2 separate regions of the Homo sapiens genome follow, and region 1 is linked to region 2. Evidence: fine-mapped expression QTL. A gene starts in region 2. The other region holds a variant in brackets. All regions are shown on one strand. Distances are from middle to middle. Region 1 holds the start of SMIM9 (small integral membrane protein 9). Region 2 holds the start of GAB3 (GRB2 associated binding protein 3).

The links. PIP is the estimated chance that this variant, and not a neighbour inherited with it, causes the effect.
Region 1: its variant is fine-mapped to the expression of GAB3 in whole blood (TOPMed, PIP above 0.99).

What each region holds. Positions count from the first base shown.
Region 1 is chrX:154,825,286-154,837,255 of GRCh38, reverse strand. SMIM9 (small integral membrane protein 9) reads left to right here and starts at 2,594. Exons shown (of 5, transcript NM_001162936.4): 1 at 2,594-2,693; 2 at 4,573-4,682; 3 at 6,301-6,541; 4 at 7,592-7,721. The coding sequence starts at 6,400. F8 (coagulation factor VIII) reads left to right here. Exons shown (of 26, transcript NM_000132.4): 26 at 1-1,464. RefSeq lists enhancers at 9,255-9,304, 9,325-9,404. The variant T/C (reference allele first, on the strand shown) is at 5,854.
Region 2 is chrX:154,744,989-154,756,958 of GRCh38, reverse strand. It overlaps GAB3 (GRB2 associated binding protein 3), which reads left to right and starts at 5,882. Exons shown (of 10, transcript NM_001081573.3): 1 at 5,882-6,005. The coding sequence starts at 5,934. RefSeq lists silencers at 5,927-6,006, 6,177-6,236.

The DNA of each region.
Region 1 (11,970 bases), 80 kb before region 2:
CTATGTGATGAAACTTTGAAAAAGATATTTATGATGTTAACATTTCAGGTTAAGCCTCATACGTTTAAAATAAAACTCTCAGTTGTTTATTATCCTGATCAAGCATGGAACAAAGCATGTTTCAGGATCAGATCAATACAATCTTGGAGTCAAAAGGCAAATCATTTGGACAATCTGCAAAATGGAGAGAATACAATAACTACTACAGTAAAGTCTGTTTCTGCTTCCTTACACATAGATATAATTATGTTATTTAGTCATTATGAGGGGCACATTCTTATCTCCAAAACTAGCATTCTTAAACTGAGAATTATAGATGGGGTTCAAGAATCCCTAAGTCCCCTGAAATTATATAAGGCATTCTGTATAAATGCAAATGTGCATTTTTCTGACGAGTGTCCATAGATATAAAGCCATTTGGTCTTAATTCTGACCAATAAAAAAATAAGTCAGGAGGATGCAATTGTTGAAAGCTTTGAAATAAAATAACAATGTCTTCTTGAAATTTGTGATGGCCAAGAAAGAAAATGATGATGACATTAGGCTTCTAAAGGACATACATTTAATATTTCTGTGGAAATATGAGGAAAATCCATGGTTATCTGAGATAGGAGATACAAACTTTGTAATTCTAATAATGCACTCAGTTTACTCTCTCCCTCTACTAATTTCCTGCTGAAAATAACACAACAAAAATGTAACAGGGGAAATTATATACCGTGACTGAAAACTAGAGTCCTACTTACATAGTTGAAATATCAAGGAGGTCAGAAGAAAATTGGACTGGTGAAAACAGAAAAAACACTCCAGTCTGCCATATCACCACACAATAGGATCCCCCTTCTTGCCCTCCACCCCCATAAGATTGTGAAGGGTTTACTGCTCCTTCCATCTGCCTGACCCCTTCACTATGACTACACAGAATCTCCTGATAGTAAAGGGGGCTGGAGACAAGGATAAGTTATAGAGCAGTTGGAGGAAGCATCCAAAGATTGCAACCCAGGGCAAATGGAAAACAGGAGATCCTAATATGAAAGAAAAATGGATCCCAATCTGAGAAAAGGCAAAAGAATGGCTACTTTTTTCTATGCTGGAGTATTTTCTAATAATCCTGCTTGACCCTTATCTGACCTCTTTGGAAACTATAACATAGCTGTCACAGTATAGTCACAATCCACAAATGATGCAGGTGCAAATGGTTTATAGCCCTGTGAAGTTCTTAAAGTTTAGAGGCTAACTTACAGAAATGAATAAGTTGTTTTGTTTTATAGCCCGGTAGAGGAGTTAACCCCAAAGGTGATATGGTTTTATTTCCTGTTATGTTTAACTTGATAATCTTATTTTGGCATTCTTTTCCCATTGACTATATACATCTCTATTTCTCAAATGTTCATGGAACTAGCTCTTTTATTTTCCTGCTGGTTTCTTCAGTAATGAGTTAAATAAAACATTGACACATACAAACAAATGCCTTTGAGAATTGTGTTTTTACACTGGAAATAAAAATGTGAACACTGATTTTTAAAACAAATAGGGGCACTGAATAGCAAGATGGACACTCTAGAAAACCAAATTAGTGAGTTAGAAAACCAGATTAAATTGAACTCAGAGTAAAAATGATATAATTCATGAGAGTCTGAATAAAATAAATCAGAAATGGAGCCTCAATCCAGGAGAACAGCTTATATGGAGAGAGAGAGACTGAGAGAGAAATGGGAGTTTCTGTTCAATGGGCATAAAGTTTCAGCTATGCTGCTGGGCACAGTGGCTCATGCCTGTAATCCTGGCACTTTGGGAGGCCAAGGCGGGCGGATCACCTGAGGTCGGGAGTTCAAGACCAGCCTAGCCAACATGGCGAAATCCCGTCGCTAATAAAAATATAAAAATTAGTTGGGCATGGTGGCACATGCCTGTAGTCCCAGCTACTTGGGAGGTTGAGGCACAAGAATCGCTTGAACCCGGGAGGCGGGTGGAGGTTGCAGTGAGCCAAGATCGTGCCGTTGCATTCCATCAGCCTGGGCAACAGAGTGAGACTCCATCTCAAAAAAAAAAAAGTTTCAGTTATGCAAGATGAATTAAGTTCTACAGATCTAATGTACAACATTGTGCATATAGCTAACGATACCATACTGGGCACTTAAAAATTTGTTAAGAGAGCAGATACCACGTTGTGTTCTTACTACAGTTTTACAACAATGCAAAAATGCATTGTAAACACTATGTGCAAATAGAATAGCAAAGAATGTATACAGTGCCCATGAGCATAACATTCTAGTGGACCCACAATGCATCAGAGTTCAGTGAGACTCAAAGGGAGAAGAATGTTGGCAAAGTCAGTGGGGAGGAGAAAATGAGTGTGATGAAATAGGCGGTCTCATTAAACTTCCCTTACAAAACACAAGATCAAAGATAAAATTATTAAGAATTTCGAGACAGTGACATCAGAGCAAACGAAACATAGGGCCCCTCAGGGTGTGGGGCCCTGTAGACCTGCATAGATCAAACTCCCATGAAGCCAATCCTGAGTCCCAGGCAAGCTGGGACTTTTGGTCATCCTAGCAATAGTCATGTGAGTGCACCATCTTGGAAGTAGATCCTCCAGTACAGTCAAGCTTTCAGATGACTGCAGTCCCAGCAGATACATGACTCCAATCTCATCATCCACTCCAAAACTAACCTACAGAAACTATAAGGTAATAAATGTTTTCTTCACAGTTGCTAAGTTGGAGGTCATTTTTCATTCAGCTAAAGTTAACTTATATGACAGCCATATTCTTTTTACAATGGAAAAGTCAGACAGGCATACAATGCTCATTTTCAGCTTATTCACATTGTCACTATTTTGTGGGGTTACCTGGTGGGCACAGGACAGTGACCAAGTTTGCAGGTCCTCCAGCTCCTGCTGGATCTTTTAGCTTCTCCAAATCCTAGAAAAGTTGTGTGTTTAGCTCTTTCAGAAAACACCTGACCTTCTCATGCATGTTACTCCACCATCGAAGTTAGAAGCTTGGAGATAACATGAGACTGATGCAGGTTTTAGTCCATTTCATGGGCTCTTCTCTTTTCAGGCTTCCAGTGTATACTTGCTTTCTCCACTTCACCTCACCTTTCCTTCCACAGAAAGGTCAGGGTATGGAGCTCATATGAGGGTTTAGAGGAATTTGGCTCAAGGGCCAGGGCCAGCTTCCTCCAGTGTTTCGGGTCACAACCTAGATACACCTTTATCAGCGCCTGGGAATGTTCAAGGTCCTAATTTTCATTCAGGCCTGTTGGCTGGGTCACAGAATGATCAAGCCACTCCATGATTTTCTAGCATGACACAGCAAGAAACTGGGGGAGACTGGAGGACTCTACAAAAACTTTCATTTTATGTATTTCCTGGTAGCTCTGTTTTCTGATAGAACCTAACTGAGATACCATTTTTGCCAGTTCTTCTATGGATAAGTATTATTTTTTTAATTTTTTTAATATTTTATTTTTTGTAGAGACAGTATCCTGCTATGTTGCCTCGACTTGATTTGCATTTTTTTTTTTTACTTTAAGTTCTGGGATACATGTGCAGAACATGCATGTTTGTTACGTAGGTATACATGTGCCACGGTGGTTGGGTGCACCCATCAACCCATCATCTAGGTTTTAAGCCCCTCATGTCCCCCAGGCTGGAGTGCAGTGGCATGATCATAGCTCACTGCAGCCTCAATCTCCCAGGCTCAAGCCAGGCTACTGCCTCAGCCTCCCGAGTAGCTGGGACTACAGGCATGCACCACCACACCCAGCTAATTTTTAAATTTTTTGTAGAGACAGGATCTCGCTATGTTGCTCAGGCTGGTCTCGAACTCCTGGGCTCAAGCTATCCTCCTGTCTCAGCCTCCCAAAGTGCTGGGATGACAGGCGTCTGCCACTGTGCCTAGCCAGTACTATTTCTTTTTAATTAGTTTGTAAGAGTTCTTTGTACGTTAACAATCTTAATTGAATGTCTGTCGTATATGCTGTGAAATTACTTAATTTGTCATTAACCTTTTATCTTTTTTAAACAATGTTTTGCTATATGAAAGCTTTACATTTTTATGTTATAAATTTATCAGCATTTTCATTTATGGCTTTGGGTTTTATGACATGCTTAGAGTAGCTTTTTCTGCACCAAGATTATAAAAATATCCACACATAGAATTTTCTATCATAAAAGTATGACAGAAAATGTCATATTTTGTATATAATTTTATTTTTTGTTTAGTCCTGGATCCATCTAGAATTTCTATTTTGCATAGCATGGCAAAGGGCTCACACCCAACATCATATTAAATAAGGTCTTTTTCCCTGATATGAAATGCCACATATATATGTTATTATAATGCATAGTTAGATACCATGTGGTGAATAAAATATCTTAGAATTATTCAAGCCTAAGAGGATAGAACTACTGCAAGGATGGGTTTTGGTATCAACACAGATGTTTATACATAGAGAGAAAATGATGTCTGTGTGCTTAGCTGTCAAATAAGGAGACTGGGGGAGGGTTAAATGTAATCAGTGATATCATAAGGAGTGGTGGAATTCTGTTTGGAACTTCAGAGACCTAAGGAGAAGACTGACCAGCTTCTTCTGAAGACTTCTGCCCTCTAAAGACTAAGGCCTAATTCCACTGGTTTCTTTGAATTCCGTGGTCCTAAGTCCATTTTCAGGTAAGTGGTTTCCCGCTGGATGTGGGTCTCTTTAAGCCGTATCAAACAGTAGGTGAGTGTATCAGTTATAAATGTCTTAAGTAATAGGAGGCCCAAATTATAATGGCTCAAATAAAAGTATATTTTTCTCATACCATGCAGTCCAGAAGTAAGCAGATACAGGTGTTAGTTTAGTGGCTTGAAATTATCAGAGCAACTTCAGGCAACATTTCTTAAGCAATATTCAAGGCAGCATAAAGGGAAAATGGTAGCACCATCTCTTTTATCAAGACAGCAAAAAGCCTTCCCAAAAGCTATCCATCAGATTTCCCTTATGTTTCATTATCCAGAGCTATGTCACATAGCCATGCCTAACTTCAAGGATGGCTAAGAAAGGGAGGATTCAGCTTTTTCAGCTTATCTAGTTGGATGTAGTAAATGAAAAATGGGTGGGAACAATATCTGCCAAAAGTCGCCATTCATTCAAAAAATATTTATTGAGCACCTGGATACCCTATGTGCTAGGTACTGTTTAGCAGTGAACAAAACAGACAAAAATCCCTGCACTCATAGAGCTTACATTATATTCAGGAGATACATATAATAAAGTAAAGTAAAATATATTCTACTAGGTTCTGATGAGGTTCTGGAGAAAAATCAAGCAGGTAAGACAATTAGGAAGTTTGTAGGAGGGTGGTACAATTTTAACAATGGGATCTAAGGAAAATCCTCATTGAGAAGGTGATATTTGAGTACCTGACAGAGGTGAGGAAATAAATTCTGAGAATACCTGGGGGAAAAGCATTCCCTGGAAAGGGAAAAGCAAGTTAAAAAGCCCCAAGGTAGGAACATGCCTAGCTTGTTCAAAATGAAATGAGGCTAAGTTGGAGTGATGATCAAGAGGAGACTCATAGGATATGTGGTCAGCAGTAACTAGGACATAATCTGACCTACAACCTACCAAGATCTCTTTGGCCACTCACTGGAGAAGAGGCTTAAGGGAGGCAAGGACGGAAGCAGAAAGACAGAGATGATGGTGGGTAGCAGTGGAGGTGGTGTGAAGTGGCAGGATTCTGGATACGTTTTGTAAGTAAAGGTGACTAGACTTTTCTGATGGATAAAGTGTATGAGAGAAAAAGAAGAGTCATTACTATATATGTAAATCTAAGCAAACATTTACTTTTTAAAGCAA[T/C]TTAAAGTTTGTTACTTGAATATATAAAATATATCATGGAGTTAAAAATATATAGAAATTTATTATATTTGGTATCTAAAGTAGTCAAATTCATAGAAACAAAAATGAGGAGCTGTTTAGAGTTTCAGTTTTCCAAGTTGAAAAAGTTCTAGAGATCTGTTGCACAACAATGTGAATGTACCTTTTTCAGCCTGAACAGGTGAAAGAGTTTCTACTAATTGAGTTGGGGAAGATTGAAAAGGTATCAGGTGTAGGAAGGAATGTCCGGTATCTGACCTGATAGAGCATAGTCAGGTTTTGTTTTGTTTTCTTGGAGGGGATATATTTTGCTTTGGAAACTGACCATTTTCAGGAGTCACCTGTGTAAGTCAGTCAATTGTCCTTATGTTCGTGATGGTGAGAAGATTTTTGGAATATGAGCTAAACCATCATTGTCTAACTTTTCAGACAAAGTTTCTGTGGAAAGACCTACGGACAAAGACATCTCTCCTTGGCAGAGTGAGCTAGGATTACCAGCTCTTCAGCCGCAGCTGAAGGCGGGAGTCCATGGAACCCCAGAAGCTGCTGATAATTGGATTTCTGCTATGCTCTCTAACTTGCCTCTTGTTGGAGACAGTAGCTTCCTCTCCTTTGCCTTTGTCTGCCTTGGGAATACAAGAAAAAACAGGATCGAAACCACGCTCAGGGGGTGTGTTTGCTGTTAGGATGAATGTTTCTTTCTTCATAGGACTTAAGATTCATGTTTCAGTTCAGGTCAGGTAAAATGAATTTCATGTTTAAAAAGAATGTTCATAGGAAAGCAAACTATTCTGGTTTGGTTCAATTTAGTTCAACAAGCATTAACCTACCTACTACGTACCAAGCCCTTTTCTGAACTACATGGATTAGGAATTGAACAGCCTCTGTTATGAAGGAGCTCACAGATAGGCAGACAAAGCCATAGATGCCAACCTTCCATGGAGTATGATCAATGCTCCCAGGGGACAAGGGGATAATTTAAATTGTTTTGGGGGAGGGGTCAGGAAAGACTTGACAAAGGAGGTGAAATTGAAAATAAACCTGATGGTCCACTGATCCACAATCTAGGTTCCAACATGCACACACATGCTATTCAAGTGTCTTGCTGGTTAGTGGTGAATCCTCTCAACTCCATGCTGCAGACACTTTCGTTTTCCCCTCCTTCTTTCTTCAGGGTCAAAGCACTGTACCTTCCTCCCCCAGTTGCTAATGAAAAGACCCAACATCCCCAGCCTTACATTGATCAGCAAACTCCCCCTAGAGGTCCTTCTTCCAGTGGCCCTGGCCCCTTTCTCCTCTGCTCTTAGGGCTGGTGGCCTTCTCCTTTCTCTTCCTGGGATACTCCCTCTCCTCAGCCTCCTGCAGGACTCCCAGATATACTCTAGGCAACAACACCTTAGTAAAGACTTTCTTGTTATCAAGTCATGCTTCTCTTTCAAAAAGTACCCAATATACTCAAGATATCCGAAACAACAATTATTGTTCCTATTTGACTTACAAGGAGGCAAAAATTATATCCATCTCAGGATACTTTAAAAACAAAATGTTTGCCCTTTGAACATCTTACAGCCAGCACAGCAAAGTAGTTTAGAATATGGGCTCTGGACAACTGTAAGAACATGATATCTGGGACAACTATTTGAACTCGAATTTGGATTCAAACGCCAGCCCTATCATTTACTTGACCTCTCCTCAATGAATGTCTATGCTCTTTCTGCAGGTAATCACAGGTCCTGGCTGAACAACTTCAGGGATTACTTATGGCAACTTATCAAGAGTGCCTTACCTCCAGCAGCCATTGTTGCTTTTCTTCTCACCTCAGCACTAATGGGGATCCTCTGCTGCTTCACGTAAGCTTCTGTGGGAAGAAGAGACAGGGAGGAGAGAGGGAATGTGAAGGGGGGTGGGAACAGAAACAGGTTGCTCACCAGCCTGCATATCTGTAATTAAGGGAAAGTTTTAAGAAATTCAATTCTGGGAGGAAAACTGTGAAAGGTCATGCAACCCCCTTTTAAAATGTCTACTTTCTCTTTTACTTCCTCCAACTTGCTCCATTTGTTACCAGTGACTGACAGGTCACATTTAATGACTAGTGTTTCCAATGGTCATTTCTTTTATCAACTTTATTAACTCCTAATTTTTCTTCCCTGTGGCTCAAGAACTATACATAGAAAATAAATAATTAGCTGTGCTCTCAATTTCCTGAAAATTTATCATAATATTTATCTACATAAATCATATGAAGCCAAAAGAATCCTGAGGAAAACAAAATAGTTGAGCTAAATTTTGTTAATTCAGTCAGTATTTACCAACAAATGACTACTTGCTTGTCTCTGTGCTTGTTGCTAGAAAGGCAGAGAAAGAAGACAATTAAAAATTACAAATTGGTAGGTCATTGCTATTGTGGGAGACAGAGTCCAAGTGGGGAGACCTATGAAAGTGATCAACAAAGGTGTTAAAGAGATGAGGTCAGGAAATAGTTGGCCAGTTTGCAAGAGGAACTAAAAGGGAATAGAGAATAGAAATGGGGGGTCCTGCAGAGCTCAAAAATCTAATAAAAGTGGCTGAGGATAAAGATCAGATTAAGGGTGTGGCATCACCTATGGCTCCTGTAACCTCAAAATGATCACAGGATCAAGAACTGTGTCTAGGAAGCAACCTTGGATGTGGTTACTGGCACATGGAACTGATTGGAGACAAATAGATTAGAAGTCAGCTAAGCTTTTGAGAGAAGCTTATTGCCAGAGAAACCATAAGCCAGAACTAAATGAGCCATCTGTTGTAAACAATAGTTAGGCCTCCACCTTTCCATGAAAAAGAAGGACACCAGCTTCGAAGGTCCCAACATTTGCTTCAGATGCAGCCATAGAGAATAATGGATCAGTAGAGCCTCCCAGAGAATGGACAATGGGCCACAGAGTCACCCTTTGAAAGCAGGATTTGGGCCTAATCCATGCCTACCTACCAGGACTCCAGGATTGCCACAGAGCAGTGACTGCTGTGTGTCTCTCATTCTTCCTATTTCCAAATGGGAATGTTTATGGTGCTTATCCTCTTCCTGTTCCATCATTATTCTGGGGTGTGGAGATCAGGAGCATATAACTCGTTTTAGTTCATAGGTCACTTAACCAAGCAGAGCCACCCTCAGACTTGAGAGAACTAAGCATCACCCAGATACTCTGGACTTTGAGCTGGACACAGTGATGAGTGTGACTTAGTACTGAGGAAAGGGTTTGCCACAAGTCAGGTATTCTGAAACTAGACAGGGAGACCGGAATTTGGCATTCAGAGTATAATTAATGATCAATGCCTGTGGAAGATAGGGGGTGGAAGGGAGAAATCAAACTGCCTTGCAAGCCCAACAAAGACTCAGTCGGCCCCATCAGGGTTGTCCCACATGGCTGAAATGGCTGGACCTCTCTAACCCCACCTCAGTCATTCACTGGATGTGGGCTGCCCCCAGAAAGTACATGGAAGCTCTCTGCAGCTGAGGCAGACTCTGAATGAGCTGACAGGTAGAGGCTTTCTGCTGACAACACTCTCAGCAGCTAGGGAAATAAGGCCTTTCTCAAGCGGAAATATGGGTGGAATATTTCCATATGCATGACAGGGTGGCTGTGTTCCACGTATGAAAGGAAAAGTGAAACAGATACTGGGTGATCAGAAAGACAGACTGTAACAGAGACTGGCTATATGTTCAGCAATCCTGTTCCTTCTTCCCCAAGCACAGAGTAACATTATATTCTTAACCTTCCTTCCAGTTAGGCTGGGACCACAGTACTGAGATTTGGCCAGTTAAATACGAGCAAAAGGAATGTATGACATTTCCAGGCCTAGCCATAAAATGTCTTGCACATGTGTCCATGCTGCCTCTCTCTTTCACATATGCAGGGCTTCAACTGAAGGACTCTAAGATGGTGAAACCACATGATGGAAGGAGCTGGGATCCCTGAATCACCTTGTGGAGGAGAACTTAACTTACATCAGAATGAGGCATGAGTGAAGGATCAATTTTATTGTGTTAAGCTACTAAGATCTCAGGATTGTTTGTTATAGCAGCTGAATATCCCTGACTAGTATACCTAGCAACCAACCAAGGGAGCTGGAACTCAAATCAAGATATGTCTGGTTCCACATCTTTGAAGTCATTGTTACTCAAACTGTGGTCAGCAGGTCAGCTGCATCAAAAGCATCTGAAGTATTGGTTAATTAATATTCAGAGGGACTTCTGTGAAGATAAAGCAGGCAATATGCCAAGAAAAAGAATTCCTTCTTTGAAGTAGATGGCTTAACCTGAATAGAAAAGCCAATAAGCCCTTGCTGGGAACAAGCAAGCTAACTAGTGAAAGAAACATTTCTGGACCCAGTTGGGCACCAAGTAGAAGCCTAACAGGTAAATTGGAATGAATAAGCATATAGGCAAGCCATATTTTTAAGAAGCAGTTTGTTGAGGCAAGAAGGTAAAGTCTGAAACTTCTTTATGCTCAGACCTACATCTGCTGCTCTCACTTGACTGGAAAGAAGTAAAGGCTACAAGAGCTCACACATACCTCAGCATCATGAAGAGAATTTGTTAGTCCAAAGTATAGCTCTGGACTTGTGCACATCTCCTGTAAATAACTGGTCCAGTAAGAGTTTACCTCATTCAACAGGAAACAGCACCAGATCTATGCAGAGTTACTATATGGAAAACACAAGAAACGTATAAGCAAGAAATGGCAGATGAGGAATACTCACTAGAAAAATATCTCAGGGCAGATAAAAACCATGTACTAACATATTGCCATAAATTCAAAACATTTGATACAAAATATAAAATAATAGCTAAGGTCGGGCATGGTGGCACATGCCTGTAATCCCAGCATTTTCAGAGGCTGAGGCAGGAGGATTGCTTAAGGCCAGGAGTTTGAGACCAGCCTAGGAACATAGCAAGACCTCATCTCAATAATAATAATAGTAAATGCTATATGCAGAAATACAACAGGGCAGATAAGGTATACCAAAACAAAAGAAGAAGATGAAAATTAGTTGGAAAATCCCAAGAAAAATGTAAAAGACAAAAAGTAAAACTATCACCAAAATGAGGAAGCATGAAGAAAAAGAGACATTGGTGCAAAATATGAAAGAAAATATGGAAAATAGGATTATATAGGCAAGCAGTATTAAGTAAACAGTTTGGTGAAAGTAAGATTAGAGAAGAAATGGTAGATGCAGGAGGCACAGAATGATTTCTTCGATGAAGAGAACCAAAATAATCCAACAGAAGAAAAAGTTATAATTTTTTCTTTTTCTTTTTTCTTTTTTTTTTATTGTTACTATACTTTAAGTTTTAGGGTACATGTGCACAACGTGCAGGTTTGTTACATATGTATACATGTGCCATGTTGGTGTGCTGCACCCATTAACTGGTCATTTAGCATTAGGTATATCTCCTAATGCTATCCCTCCCCCCTCCCTCCACCCCACAACAGTCCCCAGAGTGTGATGTTCCCCTTCCTGTGTCCATGTGTTCTCATTGTTCAATTCCCAGCTATGAGTGAGAACATGTGGTGTTTGGTTTTTTGTCCTTGCGATAGTTTGCTGAGAATGATGGTTTCCAGCTTCATCCATGTCCCTACAAAGGACATGAACTCATCCTTTTTTATGGCTGCATAGTATTCCATGGTGTATATGTGCCACATTTTCTTAATCCAGTCTATCATTGATGGACATTTGGGTTGGTTCCAAGTCTTTGCTATTGTGAATAGTGCCGCAATAAACATACGTGTGCATGTGTCTTTATAGCAGCATGATTTATAATCATTTGGGTATATACCCAGTAATGGGATGGCTGGGTCAAATGGTATTTCTAGTTCTAGATCCCTGAGGAATCGCCACACCGATTTCCACAATGGTTGAACTAGTTTACAGTCCCACCAACAGTGTAAAAGTGTTCCTATTTCTCCACATCCTCTCCAGCACCTGTTGTTTCCTGACTTTTTTTTTTTTTTTTTGAGGTGAAGTCTCAGTCTGTCACCCAGGCTGGAGTGCAGTGGCACCATCTCGGCTCACTGCAACCTCTGCTTCCCGGGTTGAATCGATTCTCCTGCCTCAGCCTCC
Region 2 (11,970 bases):
CTGGCCCAATGTGGGGATTTTGCTGACTTTTTTTTTTTTTTTTTGAGACAGAGTCTTGCTGTGTCACCCAGGCTGGAGTGCAATGGCTCAATCTTGGCTCACTGCAACCTCCACCTCCCAGGTTCAAGTGATTCTCCTGCCTCAGCCTCCCTATTAGCTGGGATTACAGGCACGCACCACCACGCCTGGCTAATTTTTGTATTTTTAGTAGAGACAGGGTTTCACCATGTTGGCCAGGTTGGTCTCAAACTCCTGACCTCAGGTGATCTGCCTGCCTCAGCCTCCCAACATGCTGGGATTACAGGCTTGAGCCACTGTGCCCGGCCAGCTGACTTTTTTTTTTTTTTTTTGCCATTTAGATGAGTAGGTAGTGGTGGTTTTAATATGCACTTCTCTAATAGCTAATGATGCTGAACCTCTTTCTATGGGCTTATTTGATACCTGTATATCCTCTTCAGTGAAATATCTCTTCATATCTTTTGTTTATTTTCTATTTGGATTTTTTTTACTGTTTATTTTTGGTAATTCTTTATATATTCTTGATATGAGTCCTTTGTTAGATCCATGATTTGTAAATATTTTCTCCCAGTCTGTAGCTTGTCTTTTTATACTTTTTTTTTTTTTTTTTTTTAGACAGAGTTCCAGTTTTGTTGCCCAGGCTTGAGTGCAGTGGCATGATCTGGGCTCACTGCAACCTCTGTCTCTGTCTCTGTCTCCCAGGTTCAAGCAATTCTCTTGCCTCGGCCTCCCGAGTAGCTGGGATTACAAGGGCCTACCACCACGCCCAGCTAATTTTTGTAATTTTAGTAGAGACGAGGTTTCACCATATTGGCCAAGCTGGTCTCGAACTCCTGACCTCAGGTGATTCATCTGCCTCGGTCTCCCAAAGTGCTGGGATTACAGGTGTGAGCCACCATGCCTGGCTGTCTTTTTATACTTCTTAACAAGGTATTTTGTAGAGCACAAGTTTTAATTTTGATGAAGTCCAATTTATCACTTTTTTCTTTTTTTTTTTTTTGTTTTTTTTTTTTGAGGTGAGGTCTTGCTCTGTCACTCATGGCTGCCTCAATCTCCTGGGCTGAAGCCATCTTCCAGCATCAATCTCCTGAGTAGCTGGGACTACAGGTGTGCACCACCACACCTGGCTAATTTTTTTAAAAAATATTGGTGTAGAGACACCGTCTACCTTTGTTGCTCAGGCTGGTCTCAGACTGTTGGGCTCAAGTGATCTTCCTGTTTCGGCCTCCCAAAGTGCTGGGATTCCAGGCATAAGCCACTGCACCTGGCATCAAGTTTTTCTTTTATGGATTGCATTTTTGGTGCCATGTCTAAGAACTTATCACCAGGTCGTAGGTCCCAAAGATTTTCTCCTATTTTATCTTCTAAAAGTTTTGTAGTTTTACATTTTATATGTAAATCTAGGATCCATTTTGAGTTCATTTTTGTATAAGGTGTGAGGATTGGGTTGAGGTTTTTTGTTTGGTTTCGGCCTATGGACGTCCAGTTGCTACAGTTTGTTGAAAAGACTATCCTTCCTCCATCGAATTGCTTTTGCACCTTTGTCAAAAACCAGTTGGACGAATTTATGTGAGCCTATCTCCAGGCTCTCTATTCCGTACCATTTATCTATATGTCTATCCTTTCACCAATACAAAAAGTTTTGATTACTGTAGCTTTATAATAAGCCTTGAAATCGTATAAAGAGATTTATGTGTTGACCTTGTATCCTGCAACCTTGCAAAACTCACTTATTAGTTTTGGGAGTTGTTTTTGCATATTCCTTGAGATTTTCTAAGGAGACAATTATCTTCTGCAAATTGAGACATTTTCTTCCCAATCTTTATGCCATTTGTTTCTTTTTCTTATCTTATTGTACTGAACTAGGACTTTTAGTACTATGTTGAATACAAGTGGTGAGAGTGGATATCCTTGCCTTGTTCCCAGTCTTAGGAGGAAAGTGTCCAGGTTTTCACCAGCAAGTATGATGTTACCTGTAGGTCTTCTGCAGATGTTCTTTAATAAATTGAGGAAATTCCCCCATTTTCTGAGAGTTTTCTGAGAGTTTTTGTCATGAGTTCTGTCAAATGCTCGTTCTGCATCAACTGATAAATCATGTGATTTTTCTTCTTTTGTCTGTTAATGTACTGTATTGCATTAATTGGTTTTCAAATATTGAACAAGCCTTGCATCTCTGAGATGCATGGTGTATAATTATTTTTATGTATTTGTGGATTCTATTTGCTAGTATTTTTCTAAGGATTTTTGTGTCTATATTCATGAGGCATATTGGCATGTAGCCTTCTTTTTTTAACTTTTTCTGGTTTTGGAAGTATCAGAGTAATACTGGCTTTATAGAATGAATTGAGAAGTGTTTGATTTGGACTTATGACAACAATTTTGTGCAATCTCTTATTTATTTAGAGATGAGGTCTTCCTATGTTGCTCAGGCTGGTCTCAAACTCCTGAGCTCAAGGGATCCTCCTGCCTCATCCTCCCACAGGGCTGGGATTACAGGTGTGAATCACCATACCTGACCAATTTTGGGCAATTTTAAATACAACAATAATGGATATGATGAAAGACTATCACTGATAATAATAAAGTCAAATTTCATATTCCACATGAAAATTAGATGATTTTAACTCATAGAGAAGTCGTTTATGGATGCCTATAGAGGAAAAAGAGTGTTCCCCTATCTGAACTTGTGCCATGGCACTCCAGGCCTTTAATTCACATACTTCTTAGATTTATTAAATCAAGAGGTGGGTGGGAGGTGGGAGATATAGGAAGGTGCAGTCCTTTTCCTCATTACTGACTCTCACACACATTTGAAGCTGTTTCCCCTGCCTGTCTATGATCCAGAGTTTTCTTTTCAAATTTTCTTTTCATAGCAAATAAGTTAGATGCATAGTCACTTTGACTCATCATGATGAAATTGAGATAGAAACTCTTCTGTAATAGTAGGCATTTATTTTCACAAGTTTGTAGTTATAAGATTTACAGAAGTTAATGAACTGTGAAACAAAGTGTATTTTAAACAAAAAATAAATGGGGAAGCCACAAAGGGAATGCAGGTGCCAAAAATCACTTGCTATTCAAATTCTCTCCTCTCCCCAGGCTAGAGTGCAGAGAAGCTAAGATGGGTTTCCATGAAAGGAACAATTTCGATTTCTCTGGCAGTGAGAACAGGGTACCCTAAAAGATACGGGAATAGTTACTCATATCACATCTTTATTTAACCCATCTGGCTAGTCTGGAGATTAGTAGTGGGTAATTGTAGAATTAATCAGGCTGTGATTCGAACTGAAGCTGCTATTCCAGATGATGCTGTTTTCCTACAGCAAATCAACATAGCCCCCTGGCACCTGGGATACAGCTATTCCTTTGCCAAATGTTATTTTTTCCCATTCAGCAGAGAACACTAGAAGCAGCTTACTTTCATCTAGCGGGAACAGAAGTACAACCTTAGGACTATATCTATTCTCTGGCTCACTGTCATAATCCACGTTGAATGGAGCTTGATTGTTGTGAATGTTGTGCTGGTTTATTACACTGATGACATATGTACTGGACCTGATGATCTAGAGGTAGCGAATACTCTAGATGCTTTATTAAGATACAAGTACACCACAGGGCAGGAGATAAGCCCCATGAAAACTCAAGAGCCTGAACCTCAGCAAAGTTTTTAGATGGTCTGGACCACGTTGGGTATTCAACATGTTGTTGTACCGCTTACCACCTACCACTCAGAAAGAGGCACGGCATTTGGTGTGGATGTTTGAATTTTGTAGGCAACATATGCTACATTTAATTGTGCCGCACCAATGCACTCAGCAAGTCATCTGTAGGGTTGCATGTTTTCGGGGAGAGATCCAGGGCAAGAAAAGGCTCTGTGACAGGTCCAGGCCACTTGACCCTTATGACCATGTAGATTCAACAGGTACAGGACCTTTGACACACTGGGAGGCTACACGGAGCCTCTGGCAAGTCCCAGTAGGAGAAACACACAGCAAAGCCCTAGAGTTTTGAAGTAAACCATGCCCTCTACCACAAAAGAAGTATTTTCCTTTTGACCAACAGCTTCCAGCTTGCTCCTGGGCTGTGGCAAAGTCTGAATGCTTGACCATGGGGCACCAAAGAACCATGGAACTTCAGCTGCCACTGATAAATTTGGTGCTATTTCATCCTCTTTTGGAAGTGGAATATTTGAGACCAGACTCAAGCAGGTCTGGAAGGTACAGGAAAGTTGCTAGAGCAGGTGGCTCACATCTTTGTGGCCCCTGCTGCTGCATGATCACCATTCCCTGGACTTACACCCAGAATGTCGTAGGGAGTTCCTCATGACCAGGTCTATCGGTCAAGGTTTCAAAAGGAAGCAAACAGTAGACTCAAGGGGTTGAAATGAGGAAAGTATAATTAAGGGATTTTTTTTTTAACAGAGGTGTAAGCAAGACTTAGAGAATTAGCAATGCATAGTGGGGCTCTCAGGGACTGGCAACAGTTGATATGGCCACAGCCACTGCTAAGTGCTCAAGCTGCCCACAGGCAGAGACAAACAATGAACCCTTAATAACAGCATTCCCTGGGGGGACCAGACAGCCACCTGGACTGCCATCTGGAAGGGGCAGCAATTTTTTCTCACTTGAACAGGTACTAATTTTGTACATGGATTCGCTTTTTTAAAATTCACATTTCTGCTGGCACTCCTGCCCATTGACTTACTGAACCCATTATTCACACTGACATTATCTCACACAAGAAAATCATTATAAGCCAGTGTGCGCATGCTGATGGACTCCACTGGTGTTACCATGTTAGCTCATCACCCTGAAGCATCTGGCCTGATAGGATGGGAGGTTGGTCATTCTGTTGAAGATGCTAGCAAACGTCACATAGATGATACCCACAAAAAGCAGAGGGTGGTGCTTAAGTGGATGGGCTCTTGACACAGCTCTGGCTGCCTATGGATGATTTTCTCGTGTGGCTCTCGACAAGTGACACTGTCATCCTGTTTTTCATTTTAGTAACCTGCAAAATTGAGATAATAATAAGAGCCCTTTGACAGGGTGTTGTGTGGATTCAATGAGATAACGCCTGGAAAGTGCTTAGCACAATCGCTGGCATGGTGTTAGCTTGGCAGTAAGGAAGGTCACAAGTGTTAGGTGCTCATGATTGTTATTTTTACTTAGCGTGGTCAGCACACTAGTTGGCACAATCGACTTTAGATCCATCTTTTAAAACCTTCGAGTCAAAGAGATTGCAAACAGCACTACCTTTTGAGTTTGGGTCATTTGGGTTCATTAAGACATTTAGACCGTTTAGCCGGCAAAGCTTATCACTGAATACAACGATCTTTGGGGGAGGGACATAGAAAACACACTACTGTGCAAGCAATCAAGTGGAATAGGGAAGTCCAAGAGGAGTCTTGCTTTTGTTTCTCCGTGAACTATGCACATGGCAGATGCAGGTGGTACTTGGGTTTCAGCTCCAGGGTCCCTGAGACCCAGGGACCAGCCCGTTTGGCGTGGCGGATTGGGGATGGGGCATGAGGGCAACAGGTTCCAGGCTGTGCTCCCATTAGGTCGCAGGGCTCCTTCCGAGCGCTTTCTCGTGACCCTGGGTGAGAGTGGCAGGCGCCCTGCTGCGTAGGCTCCCCCCCCCACACCCCCCCCCCGGGCACAGCCGCTGGCGGAGCTGCAGTTGCTCGAAGGGGCTTCCCAGGCTTCGCTGCTTGCTTTTCCCGCCGTCTTGGGTTGCGGGCGGCGTCGGTTCCCTCCCCGGGGGCCGCGGCGGCCGGAGGCGGGGGTCGCAGCGGCCGCTCGGGGCGGCGCTGGGCGGGCGGGCGCTGGGCCCGCCCCGCCGGCATCCTTGGCCCGACTTCCTTCTGCCGCGGGCGGCTGGCCCAGCTGGAGGAAGCGGCGGCGGCGGCCACGATGAGTGCGGGCGACGCAGTGTGCACCGGCTGGCTCGTTAAGTCGCCCCCCGAGAGGAAGCTACAGCGCTACGTGAGTAGGGGCGCCGCCACCCGCCCGGCCTTCGCGTCCCGGGGCACCCGCCCGCGGGGCGGCCGCGGGGAGCCGCTGGGCTCCGGGCGCGCCAGGCGCAGCCGCTCCCAGCGCCCGGGACTGCGGGCGAGGCCGACGGACGGAAACCGAAATCGCACGTCGAGCCAGCTTCGCCGCTGTGCTAGGCAGCGGGCCGGAGACCAGGTGGCGCCTGCCCGCGGGGCTCAGGGACTCCAGACCGCCGCTGACTCTAGCGGAGGGAGGCGGGTTGGGGCTGAAACCTCAGGCGCCACTCTCCGTACAGGAGCGGCCAGGGAGACATCTCGAAAGCGTGCCCCTTTCTTTGGCTGGGGGTGGCTCTGAGACCCATCGCCCCGCGAAGGAGACGCGGCAGGGGATAGGGAGACTGACAGCCAGAGGGGAATTGCCTGCATTCCCCCTGGACCGTAAGGAGTAAGGAGTGCTGCTCTTGTAGCTGTCATCGGACACTGCTGTCTGGAACCCTACACAGTGTAACTCGTTTCTCATCGTGTAACTCCTTTCAGCTTCTTCTTAATGCTGACACCGCGCTTTTATAGTGCCAGCTGGACAACTGACTTTTACTAATATGAAATTAGGAATACTTGGAAGAGCGAATCTTCCTACCTATTCCATTACCGTTTTAAGATGTACTATCGACACCTCAAACGTTCATTATCTCCATCAGCGTCCTCACGATAAGGTCTTAAAAACATTCTGCTTAAAGACCTGATTGCTACTCAGTGTTTTTCAGCCATTAGGAAGAACCACTTCAGTCCCCAGGGAGTTGCATATAAATAGCTATTAGGACTTCTTGCTTTTTTTAGGCTGGGAGTAGCTGGATGGATTCATCTTGTTCTTAATTCCTAATTTCTCTGCAACTTCACTGCACGGTGGTAGGAACAAACTCGCGCATGTCTGCGCTCATCCAAAGCAGCCCACCCCAAATGTGGTTCAGCCTTGTGCTCTTGTCTATACAGTGCTCTCAAACTGCTGTCCTCTTCTGGCCAAATTTCACAACTGTTTTTGTTCCCACATAGATGAGGCACATATTGTGTGGAAGTTCAAGAGGTGGGATTATAAAAAGACTTTAATAATGTATGAATACTTCCAGAATGTGTGGCAGGAGATTTTCCTGAACATAGAGTTGCTCAAGCCCTCTTTCCCCATTCACATCGGGCTAGACAGTGTGTGTTTCTCTCTTAGGGGTCTTTGAAAAGATTTTTGTTGTTTGTTCTGCAGAACAGAACTTTAGAGGAAGGTTGTTCTATTTAGCACGTGAATATCAGGAGTGCATAAATACTGAGATTTCTCTAAGTGCCAGTGTGTCCCTACATCATTTGCTTTTGAGTCCAGGAGTCCATAAGCACAGGGTCCAATATCTCTTGGCCTCTGCATTATCCAGCTGCTTCCTTAACTGTGAAGCTACTCAAAGGAGGCAAGAGAAGAAAACCTGCTCCCATCACCTGCATGAGCAGGTGAGGCTTTTGTCACACAGTAGTGCTTGCAGTGTTGACTCAGGATGGGTTTCCTTGTTGTCCTTTGGAATGACAGACATTTTAAAGGTTCACTATACAATTTCAGTAGATGATACAGAAAGATGCCCCTGGAGGGCAAAGATTATAGAATATTTTATTTCCCAGTCTTTTTTTGTATCTTAAGCAGACTGGCTTAGGGAAGTTTATTAGTATTTCATCAACTTTGGGAAGGCATGAGTGTGTGTGCCTATTATCACACGCGGTTCATTCCTTTAGGGGATGTGGCAAGAGTGGACACTGCGCAGCTTAGAGATATGTGGGGCGTGTGATGATGGGGCAGTGACTAGACTTAAGACACAAGAGTACCTAGGTGTCATCTTACCAACACTCCAAGACATAAACCTTGATGTTTGGGAACTGTCTCTAAGAAAGATCATATCTAGTCAATGCTTTTTTCGCTGACAGGCATCTGTCCCTGGAACACACCACAGAAAGAATTCTTTTTCCTCTCATAGCTAAATTCTGCAGGAATCTTTTTCACCACTAGATGGTGATCATGTGTCACTTCGACGGGGCCTGGATAGGGCTGTTACAGCTGCTTAAATTCAATTCCTGTCACTCCCTCCCGTTAACGGAGCGCTAACTCCGAACTAGGCCCTGTGTTACAGGCTGGGAAGACAGAAAAAAAAGACTTGATTCCAGTTTATAGTTTAACATTTATAATAGTAACATAGCAAAACTAGTTATTGGCACAACCAGGACAATAACTCAGTTATTCGTGCTGCCAGGCCAGCAAGCAGCACTCCATCAATGTTTGCTGTTACAAATGGAAGCTCAGGCAGTTTTTAGGTAAACCTTTCAGTCCAAAGTAGGCTTGTACTTCATCCACTTGAATCCATCAGTGAAGACAATCAGAAAGTTATTTTTTATCACTGGTCTTTTAAAAGATAGTTATTTTCATCTGTATTTTTTGTTTCACAAGAAATATATTCTTATGTTAATAAATAGAATGAAAAGTGAAGACCCCCTTTAAATTTCCCCTACCCCGCTACCTTCCCTTTGCTCTCCTCCTTATTCCACTCCCCAACCCAGGGATAACAACTGTGAGCCGTTCAGTGAGTACCATTCTACAAAATTTTTCAGAAAATATATAATTTTCTTTTTGCACAACTGGGATCATATTCTACTAACGGTCCTGCAATTTGCTTTGTTCACAAACATCCTGGACATCTTTCCAGGTTAGTACATATAGATTTACTTCATTCGTTAAAGCATTGTCAAATATTCCTTGTAATACATATAATATAACAATTTCTCTATTGGTGAACATTTGGCTTGCATCTATTTTTATCCATTTTAAAGAGTCCTATAATAACAGTGATAATAAAGCTATAATAGTTCACTTTTATTGAATGTTTATATGTGCCAGGCACTACACTAAGAACTTGTATTAACTCATTTAGTTTTCAAAACAATGCCAAGAGCCAGGCACTGTTTTTGTCCCTGGATATAGGTTCTCTGGATATAGGTTCTTTGTTGCATATTTAATTTGCAAATATTTTCTAGCAGCCCATAGTTTTTGTCTTTTCATCCTCTTTTGAAGAACTAAAATTTAAAAATTTTAATGAAATCCCCAATACAATTTTTCTTTTATGAATCATGGATTTAATGTTAAATCTAACAACTCTTCATCTAGCCTAAGATCCTTTGTCACCCAGCCTTGACCTCTTGGGCTCAAGTGATCCTCCCACCTCAGTCTCCTGAGTAGCTGGCACTATAGCTGCTCCCCACCATGCACTGCTAATTGTATTTTTTGTAGAGAGGACAGGATTTCTCCATGTTGCCCGCAGGCTGGTCTCCAACTCTTGGCCTCAAGTGATCCTTCCACCTTGGCCTTCTAAAGTGCTGGGATTACAGGCGTGAGCCAATGTACCTGGCCTCTGAAAGTTTTATAATTTTATATTTTATATTTAGATATTTTATATTTAGATCTATGATCCATTTTGAGTAAATTTTATAAAAGCTGTGAGGTTTGTATCATGGTTTCTTTTCTTGCATACCGATTTCATTTGTTCCAGTACTATTTATTGAGTAGACTGCCTTTATTCCATTGATTTACTTTTGAAACATCATCAAAAACCAATTTACCTGAAGGGCACAGTGGCTCACGCCTATAATCCCAGCACTTTGGGAGGCTGAGGCTGGAGGATCTCCTGAGGTCAGGAGTTCAAGACCAGCCTGGCCAACATGGTGAAACTCTGTCTCTACTAAAAACACAAAAAAAATTAGCCAGGCATGGTGGTGGGCACCTGTAATCCCAGCTACTTGGGAGGCTGAGACAGGAGAATTGCTTGAACCCCAGAGGTGGAGGTTGCAGTGAGCTGAGATCACACCATTGCACTCCAGCCTGGGCGACAAGAGCAAAACTATCTAAAAAAAAATCCATTTACCATATCCATGTAGATCTATTTCTGGATTCTCTAGTCTGTTCCATTGATCTATTTGTTTTATGCCAACAACATGCTGTTTAATGACTAATGACTGTAGCTTTACAATAATTCTTGAAATCAGGTTATTTTAGCCCTCAAACTTTTTCTTTCTCAGAGTTGTTTTGGCTATTTTAGGTCCTTTGTTTTTCTATGGCAATTTTAGGATTGGTTTGTCAATTGATTTCACTGACCTCATATCCCATAGCCTTGCTAAACTCACTTATTAGTTCTAATAGCCTTGTCTGTAGTTGCAACCTGCAATACTATAAATGTTGCATAGAAATGACGAGAGCAGACATCCTTGACTTTTTCTTGATTTTAGAGGGAAAGCATTCCATTTTTCACCTTTTAAGTATGTTAGCTGTAGGCTTTTTGTAGGCACCTTTTACCAAATTGAGGAAGCTCCCCCATCTTGCTAGTTTGCTGAGGCTTCTTCTCATGAGTTGGATTTTGTTGTGTTTCCTGCATCTATAAAAATGATGATATGTTTTTTATTTTTTAGTCTGTTACTATGGTGAATTACACTGCTTGATTTTAAATGTTGAACCAACCTCGAACTTATGGGATAAACTTCAGTTGGTTGTAACATATTATTCTTTTCATATATTTCTGGATTTGCTTTGCTGATAGTTTGGCTGAAGATATTTGTCTCTGTCCATGAGGGATATCGGTCTGCAGTTTTCCTTTTTTATGCTATCTTTGGTTTTGATATTAGCATAATGCTGGCATCATAAAATGAAATCAGAAGTTCTCCCTCCTCTTGTATTTTCTGAAAGATGTTGTGTAGAATTGGTATTCCTTCTTCCTTAAATGATTGGTAGAACTCACCATTGAAAACATCTGGGCCTATACTTTTCTTTTTGGGAAGGCTATCAACTACAAATTTTCTTTCTTTCTTTTTTTTTTTTTTTTTTTTGAGATGGAGTTTCACTCTTGTCACCCAGGCTGAAGTGCAGTGGCACGATCTTGGCTCGCTGCAACCTCCACCTCCTGGGTTCAAGAGATTCTCCAGCTTCAGCCTCCCGGGTAGCTGGGATTACAGGTGCCCACCACCATGCCTGGCTAATTTTTGTATTTTTAGTAGAGACAGGGTTTTGCCATGTTGGCCAGGCTGGTCTCGAACTCCTGACCTCAGGTGATCCACCCGCTTCGGCCTCCCAAAGTGCTAGGATTACAGGTGTGAGCCACTGGGCCTGGCCAAATTTTATTTCTTTAATAGATATAGGGCTATGTGGGTTATCCATATCTTCTTGAATGAGTGTCGTTAGTGTCTTTCAAGGCTTTTCTCTATTTTGTCTAAGTTCTTGAATTTATTGGCAGAAAGTTGTTCATTATGTTCCCTTATTATCCTTTAAATGCCTGTATGATTTGTAGTGATGCCTCAGTTTTCATTTATTACATTAGTTTTTAGGAACCATCCTTTGGTTTCGTTTATTTTCTCTACTTTCTCCCTGCTTTCAATTTCATTAATTTATCCTCTTATCTTTATTATTTTCCTCCTTTTGATTGCATTGGGTTTAATTTAATCACTTCTTTATCTAGTTCCTTAGGGAGGAAACTTAAATTACTGATTTGAGACCTTTCTTATTTTCTAATATAAGCATTTAGTGCTATAATCTTCCTTTTTTTTTTTTTCTGAGACTGAGTCTCGCATTGTCACCCAGGCTGGAGTGCAGTGACACAATCTTAGCTCACTGCAACCTCTGCCTCCTGGGTTCAAGCAATTCTCCTGCCTCAGCCTCCTGAGTAGGTGGGATTACAGGCACCTGCCACCATGCCTGGCTAATTTTTGAATTTTTAGTAGAGATGCGGTTTCACCATATTGGCCAGGCTGGTCTTGAACTCTTGACCTCAAGTGATCCAGCCCACCTTGGCCTCCCAAAGTGCTGGGATTACAGGCGTGAGCCACCACACCTGGCCAATCTTCCTTCTAAGCACTACTTTAGGTGCATCCCACAAAATTGGATATGTTGCATTTTC